2 linked regions of the Homo sapiens genome follow. The protein of the gene in region 1 interacts with the protein of each later gene in a pairwise test. Each region holds a gene or a part of one and is shown on either strand. Other genes may lie near its edges. The genes, in order: FABP7 and GPR37.

Region 1 (4,449 bases):
GTCACAAATAAAGTGAAAATTGGAAGAAAAGCAGTTGTGAAGGAAGACTACAGTTTTTGTTAAACAAGCGCACTTGAGACACCGAAGAAGAATCATGTAGCCGCCACCTAGCGTAGGAGGCCTTCTGAGCCTTCTCTGTTGGATCTGGTGTGGATTGGGTAGAAATGTGCTGGGCTGCAGTTTAATTGGGAGGGGAGAGAGAAGGGCAGGGAATATCAAGTCGGATTCTCCTGCTCTGTCCCCAGGAGAGGCAGGTAAGCTGCTTTCATTGCTGGTCAGCACTAGTAAGTCAGGAAGGAATCTCTTTGGGTGAAGGGGAATTTCAGAGACTTCCTTTAAATACTCTACTTAGAACCCTCAAGGTATTTGCCATTCTTGGGGAACCCTGAGCCAGGGCAAACTGAAACCAAAGCCCTTCTGATTCCTACCGCTCCTCCAGTTCCTGCCCTTCCCCATCACTAACTCCCAACAAATGTACACAGATTGTATTTGTGTAGATGTGGCCTCAGGAAATCAAAAGGTCCTAGAATGCAGGTAATTTAAAGTCTTACTAAATAATCTTCTGTCCAGTTTTTCCACATGGGTTCTATAATCTATTCAAGGAGATCGGGGGGAAAAGCATTCTTTTATTTATTTTTGTACCTCATTAGTAAGTCCTAACCATACTCTTCCTTAGGTCCCTTTTCCAACTCAGTCTCGTTCTCACATTTTTAGAAAGGACAACGGGATCTTTAAATTCTCTCGGTTTGTGTTGGGAAAGGACCCAAATTAGTGTGCTTCCTCATTGACAGTCAGAGTAGCCTTCAAGCAGTATATCCAGGGAAGGCATTTACACCTCCTCCCCGCCCTCTTTTTCAGTTTGGCCTACTCTAGCCTGCATTTCGCTCTCCCTGTAACTATGAGAGAAAATAACACACACTATTCACTCTCCTTTGTCTGCAAAGTCTGGCATTTCAGTGGTTTTCTTTAAGGGGGGTCCTCATTTGTGACCAGCTTTGTCATTAACGGAAATCAATCTGAATGCCCCATTGTGCATCTTTTTTCTTTCCTTGCAGTCTGAGATTGCCTTTGCCAAGTTTTTTCTCACCGAACCTGAAAGCCCTTCTCTCATTTTCCCGTTCCCTGCCTCCAGCCCCATTGAATCCCTGCCGAGCTTTCTCAGGCATAAGGGCTGTAGTGTGAGGATTGGGAGGAACTCGACCTACTCCGCTAACCCAGTGGCCTGAGCCAATCACAAAGAGGATTGGAGCCTCACTCGAGCGCTCCTTCCCTTCTCCTCTCTCTGTGACAGCCTCTTGGAAAGAGGGACACTGGAGGGGTGTGTTTGCAATTTAAATCACTGGATTTTTGCCCACCCTCTTTCCAAATAAGAAGGCAGGAGCTGCTTGCTGAGGTGTAAAGGGTCTTCTGAGCTGCAGTGGCAATTAGACCAGAAGATCCCCGCTCCTGTCTCTAAAGAGGGGAAAGGGCAAGGATGGTGGAGGCTTTCTGTGCTACCTGGAAGCTGACCAACAGTCAGAACTTTGATGAGTACATGAAGGCTCTAGGTAGGTAACAATAAGACCGGCTGTTCTCTTCTCAACGTGCAGCTTTAGATATTTGCAGATTCCATTTTTCACTCATCAGGTCAGCAAGAGGCAAAGACAGATCACATTGCCCTGATCAGATGCTAGGCTATGCATTTTCCACTGAATGGATTTTTAATGTGGCACTTGCTTGCCTTCTTACCCAGGGCCAATAAAAACAGAACATTTGCTATTCCGTGGAGAATATGAAGCTTCTCTGACTTTTTTGGTTTTCTTCTGCATCCACTTATTATCACAGTAGTGTTTTACATGATTAATGGGCTAATCATGTTCTAATGAAACTTACACTTTAGAACGTGGATTCCAGAATCAGAAAGCAGATTCTTGCTTTGTGAGTTATTTTGGAAGTCGCTGCAGACTGTACTGTTCCCTTTGCTATTTTAGGCGTGGGCTTTGCCACTAGGCAGGTGGGAAATGTGACCAAACCAACGGTAATTATCAGTCAAGAAGGAGACAAAGTGGTCATCAGGACTCTCAGCACATTCAAGAACACGGAGATTAGTTTCCAGCTGGGAGAAGAGTTTGATGAAACCACTGCAGATGATAGAAACTGTAAGGTGAGAAACTGCTTCTTCTTCAGAGTGGGGATGGGGAGAGGGGAATAAAGATAAAGATTTCCAATGCATGTTTTTTTTAAGATGTTGGAAAGTGTAGAATATTTTCAGTATTTCAATCCAAGGAGAAATACACCAAAGTTAGTTTAATGTGCATATGTTATATTTTGAACAATGGGTACTTGCTATAGCATAAATCTCAGTTGTATTTGTCTCTTACCATATACTGTTCACATTTTATATCAAACTTGTATTTCAGAAAATATTTAATAAGGTTTGTTTGAAAGAGAGATTGCATTTTGTTTAATTCCCCAGGTTGCCTCAGATTGACTAAATAGACAGTTTGCCTCATTCTAAGGCTTTCTTTAGAGGGACGACTAGCTGCAAAGCACTGGTTTAGGATTTTTGTTTTTAATATATTAAATTTTTGTATTTAGATGTATACTTTTTAATCAAATTATGAATTCAAATTTACATAATAGAAAATCTAGAAGTAATAGAAATAACAATAGGATAATTAACTGATCATGATTTATTCAATTATACAACTCTTTCAAAAATCACATCGTCTTCCGTATCAGAAATCTGAATTGTATTTATTGCTATGTTCTGCATTTTGTTGTTGGTCTCAGTCTGTTGTTAGCCTGGATGGAGACAAACTTGTTCACATACAGAAATGGGATGGCAAAGAAACAAATTTTGTAAGAGAAATTAAGGATGGCAAAATGGTTATGGTAAGTAATGACAATTCTCCATTCTTCCTTGTTTTTTTCTCCTCTCCGCACACCTCTCACCTCCTTCCTTCTTCTTCCCTCCTCCTTCCATTCTTCCTCCTTCCTTCCTTCTTTAATAATACATCACTGGCAAGGTTCTTTAACTATATGTAAAACAGGGGAAACAAAAAGATCCCAGTTAATTTTCTTCTTCAGCTCAACTTCTTTGATTGTAGAAAAAGAGAAAAATTCATGTGTAGTTAAAAAAATAAAAGTTGCCATTGATTTGCCTAAAACTGTGTCAAAAGATTTTTTGTAGGATAACTATGGATGTCTCTCAAATAAAATTTAATATAAAGCCCATAATCACTGAAATATATAAAGATAATTGCTATTATAAGAGAATCTCAGACAGATGACTTTATAGCTCCTGTAATAAGAGATCTTTAAACAGTTTATATTTTAATTTATAAAGTTACACAAGTTCTGGGCAGATAATTTAGAATATAACAGAAAAGTATAACAAAAAAATTAAAATCCCCTCTGATTTCTCATCAGTGATAACCCTTTTTTTTTTTTTTTTTTGAGATAAAGTCTTGCTGTGTCACCCAGACTGGAGTGCAGGGGGTGCATTCTTGGCTCACTGCAACCTCTGCTTCATGGGCTCAAGCGATTCTACAACCTCAGCCTCCTAAGTAGCTGGGACCACAGGTGCAAGCCACCAACGCCGGGCTAATTTTTTTGTATTTTTGTAGAGATGGGATTTCGCCATGTTGCCCAGGCTGGCCTACAGCTCTTGAGCTCAAAGTGATGCTCCCGCCTGCTGCCTCGGCCTCCCAGAGTGCTGGGATTACAGGCCTGAGCCAAGGCTCCCAGCCCCCAAAGAGAACCATTTTGATGTTACTTCTTTCCAGTTTTTTTCTCGAATGCATAATATGCCTTTTAAACATATATATTCAATACTAGGTAGACATGAAAAATATTTTTTTCAATCAGCCTCTTCTTACTTACTAGGAATTATCTGTAAAAGAGGATTTATTAGTGTCCTAAGGCTGCCACAACAAAGTACCACAAACTTGGTGGCTTAAAACAACAGAAATGAATTTTCTCAGTTCTGAAAGCTGGACGCCTGAGATCAAGGCGACCCTAGTGTTGCCATCCTTCTGCGGGCCCCCTCCCTTGCTTCTTCCTACTTCCCGGATGGCTCCTGGCAATCATTGAGGTTGTTGGGCTTACAGTTGTTATTACTCTGATCCATTTCTGACTCCATCTTTACAAGACTTTTTCCTCTGTTTTTGTCCTAAATTGATCAAATATAAAATAATTAACAAATAATTTATCTAATGATGGAGTAGTATCACAAACTAGGAGAAATATTATGCCTTCACCAAGCCTTCCTCAGACACTTTTTGTGTGACCTGCAATGGTATATTGATGATACTGACATAGGTGGGTAGGCTCATTCAATTTTGGAGGAGGGTGTGAGAATGCTTTACATAGTCCTTGTACGATGACAGCAGAGAAAGTTTTGTTGTTTAAGAATGGGGACTCATGTTTCCTTCTCCCCTTGACTACTGCAATCAGCACTGTTCTGCA
Region 2 (3,821 bases), on another chromosome or scaffold:
TGGTTTATTACTTAGCCACAAGAAAAAAACTATACTCAAAACAAAACTTGTATATGTAGTGTGCTTTTATGTGTATTAGGGGAGGTGGAGATATGTGTGGGTGTGGATTGCAATAGGAGAATGGCAGAGGAGTTCTCTACCATACCTACCATTCACTTAGGAATCTAACAAGTGTTTAAAACCAAATAATTTGGGCCAGGTGTGGTGGCACACCCCTGTAATCTCAGCACTTTGGGAGGCCTATGCAGGCAGATTGCTTAAGCCCAGGAGTTCAAGATCAGCCTGGCCAACAGGGCGAAACTCCATCTTTACAAAAAATACAAAAATTAACGGGATGTGGTGGTGCATGCCTGTAGTCCCAACCATTCAGGAGGCTGGGGTAGGAGGATTTCTGGAGCCTTGGAGGTTGAAGCTGCAGTGATCCATGATCATGCCACTGCATTCCAGCCTAGGTGACAGAGTGGGACCCTGTCTCAAAAAAAAAAAAAAAAAATTCAAATAATTCAGACATCAAATATGGCAACTGGAATGAATCTTTGCTCATTATTTAATGGAAGTCAGAATCAAGGTATCATCTGACCGAGATCCCAGATAACAGATTAAGGTCTGTTTGGACATTAATTGGAGGTTTTGAATGATCGAGATTCTCTTTAGTTTAAAGAACCCACACCTTCATGGAGTGTTGTAGAACAGAAGGCTTCAAATAATTATAATGAGATAACCCCAGATCTAACTGTATTTTTATTTTACTGGGATAAAACTCCTGCACAGAGGTGGAGAGAGAATAAAGGGAACATGTCTTACCATGGCCTCTGGTCTGGGAATAATTTGTGACAAGTCTAGAATCTTTTCTAATGAGAGGAACCAGCTTCTCCAATGACTTTAGCAATACTGGTTTTAAGTTGAGTGGAACAAATGGCTCTTTCATTGCCTTAGATTGTAGCTAGCACTGACAAGAAAGAAAGGGTTTTTGGAGGTTGAAGATGACAGTGCCATACAACTATCTGAGTCTACACAGATTTCCCTAGAACGCCTGTATTCAAGTAATAGAACATTTATCATGGCATATGGTAAATTTTCTTTGAGAGGTGGATTAGTCATTAGGTATTCTGCCGGACTTTTAAGTGGAAACTTACTGTTTTATGAGCAATTTTAAAGTTACTAATAGTATTCTTAGGGAAAATGTGCTCAATATATGAGAATGGTGCTGAACAAATATTTTATGACTTCCCATTAATCTTTTAGTAATCATTTTATATATTCCCATGCAAATGAAAATATTTAGCTGATGACTCTAACAGGAAGAAAAGTGTTTCTTAGAGTGCACTTTTATTTATAACTCCATTTCTGAATGGTGTATGGTGAAGTTAACTGAATTTGGATCTTCCACAAGAAAGAAAAGTTTTATAATATTCAAATAAGAAATCCAAATAGTTTCCTTTTCCATTGATCATAATGAGAATGTGTCCTTTTCTAAAGCTTGTCAATGAAGTATAAATAGGAAAATTGATTTTTTAACTTCCCTTCTATAGATATTGTCTGGCATTCAGCTTTTAAGGATTATATATAAAACAGCAGCACCCAATAACTGATTAAAGAACAATTTGAATAATTTATTATTTTCTGTAATCCTTTTCCATAGGTGTCATCATTCGTTCATTTGTTCACCATTCATTGATTTATCAAATGTTTACCTGGCTTTTCTTCTATGCGAGGTACTATTAGGAGTGGGCAGGAGAAGGCAATACAGGAAGAGGGGGAAAAGTTTCCAAAGATGAATATCATAGATGAGCCACTGCCATTAAAATTACAGAAAAGTAAAGTAATGTTCTACACCATGATGAATATTATAATAGAGGTTTGAACAAAGCATCGTGGAAGCTCAGAAATGGCACTGAAATGGGTCAAGTCACAGTTGTGCTTGTTATGACCAGAGATGGAGAAATTAAAGGGAAAACTGTGCTCCCTCTAATTCTTTTCAGTTACATTCTTACTATTAATCTTCATAAATTTCATAAATGCCTATACAGCCTAGATCCATGATGAAAAGTTACAAATGTGAAAATCTTTTAATTCTTGCTTTTTTGTTTCCTTTAGCTTTCCCAGGATAGAAAGTCCATAATAATAATTGGCAAAATAATTCAGCAAATAGTTCAGTTCTAGAAATTTCTTTTAAAATATGGAATTTGTGCCAGTGCCTAGGATATCTATCTCTGCTTTACAATTAGTCCTTATTAGCTATAAGGACACTAAATACGTCAAAATTAAACATTTTATTTAAATGAATGGCTTATTTGGCAATGTAATAACAGTATATTAAATTGAGTCCTTTTCTTCTGAAAAAATCAAAACATATACAAATTGTTTAACTTGACCTTGGAGAACCTAAGAAAGAAGATGGACAAGGGCGATACTTTAGACTCCATTGTGGAGTCGAGGAAAGGGGAGCACGATGAATGGACTTTCTCAAGAATTGGATTAATCTCTCAAGCACATAATCAGAGTGAAGATTTATTCTGAGCTCCTGAGGGCTCCCAAGGTATCCTGCCATGTCAGCAAAGTATCCTTCCACAGAGACAAGGAGGCAAATGTGTCTGCAGAAGTAAAACAGATATGAGCTTATAAGTTTACCGAAGGCTGAGTGGGTGAGGGTCTACCTTTGCTTTCATATTTAGGCTGCATGGACCTTGATACAATTTTTACACCTTTAATGGCATTCGTCTTATGTGCGGCAACCTTTTAACAGTATCCCATTGGAAGCACATGGACCTGTGTCTGGGATGTAGATTGTGGGAGAGGGATGGGAAGGCAGCTATGCAGTGCAGTTTGTCTCTGCCTCTGCACTTCTGCTCCATCCTCCAGGGATGCGCCTGTCATTTCACTTCCCATGAATTGACCTGCCAAGGTCCAATAATGAACTCAACCTTGTTGCCAAGACTAACTCTTAAATATCCTAATTGGAATAATACTCTTTGTGCCAGAAGAGATGATCTCATCCAAAATTTCAGAGTGGAGTTGAGAATGGGATTACTGCAACGTCAAATATGGAGGGTCTTTTTTTATTTGCAGAGTAAGTGTAGGTACTTTTCATAAACTTCCATAAAACGCAGGATATGATCACTGTGTCAGTCTTGTTCTTGAGACAGAATACTTTCCATTTGTGAATTTGTAATAGTTTTCAGTGTTATCTGTCTGTACACTTGAATAGTTCATAGCATTCATTAATGAGGCCAAGGTCATTGATTTGATCCCTGCCTAGAATGAGACATTCTTATTAGGTCTGTGACTCTATTCAGGGATGTTACTTTTTTCTTTTTTTCTGTCAAAATAGCCCCTTCCTCATCAATTCCCATCTTCAGGGCCTATCTTTACTATTGTCTTCCTAATTCAAATCCTTTTTATATCGGAAAAGCATCTGATAAGCCAATTCGCATCAAGATATGCAATTTAGAAATAACTGCCTTTTATAAGAAGATTGAATCAAGAAAGAAATTTCCTTAACAGACTACCAATAGTGAAATTTTGGTTAAAAGCAGATAAATTCTGTCCTAAAATATGGTTTCTCAATTTTATTAAAATCATGATGACCTAACTATACATAATTTTGTTTTTAGTTTGAGTTCACAGTCATGCAAATCAATATCATTAGTCAGAAAGGGAAATAGGTAAAAATGTGTTACTGCTTTTTGGAAACTCATCAGAACCCCAAGGTAAGGAACTGAAATTCCAGGTCACTTTAAGATTGACTAGGAACATCATAATAATACCAAAGATTGAGAACTGGACTGTGGGCTTGGGGGAAATATTACATTTTGAAATGA

The links.
Region 2: the proteins of FABP7 (region 1) and GPR37 interact in binary tests that used the Homo sapiens proteins (3 or more experiments, as listed by UniProt).

What each region holds. Positions count from the first base shown.
Region 1 is NC_000006.12:122,778,321-122,782,769, forward strand, and holds the start of FABP7 (fatty acid-binding protein, brain), read left to right. Parts: upstream 1-1,395; 5' UTR 1,396-1,474; coding exon 1,475-1,547; intron 1,548-1,970; coding exon 1,971-2,143; coding exon of another isoform or gene 2,144-2,191; exon of another isoform or gene 2,192-2,772; coding exon 2,773-2,874; coding exon of another isoform or gene 2,875-3,027; exon of another isoform or gene 3,028-4,449. UniProt on the Homo sapiens protein: B-FABP could be involved in the transport of a so far unknown hydrophobic ligand with potential morphogenic activity during CNS development.
Region 2 is NC_000007.14:124,755,739-124,759,559, reverse strand, and holds part of GPR37 (prosaposin receptor GPR37 precursor), read left to right. Parts: intron 1-3,821.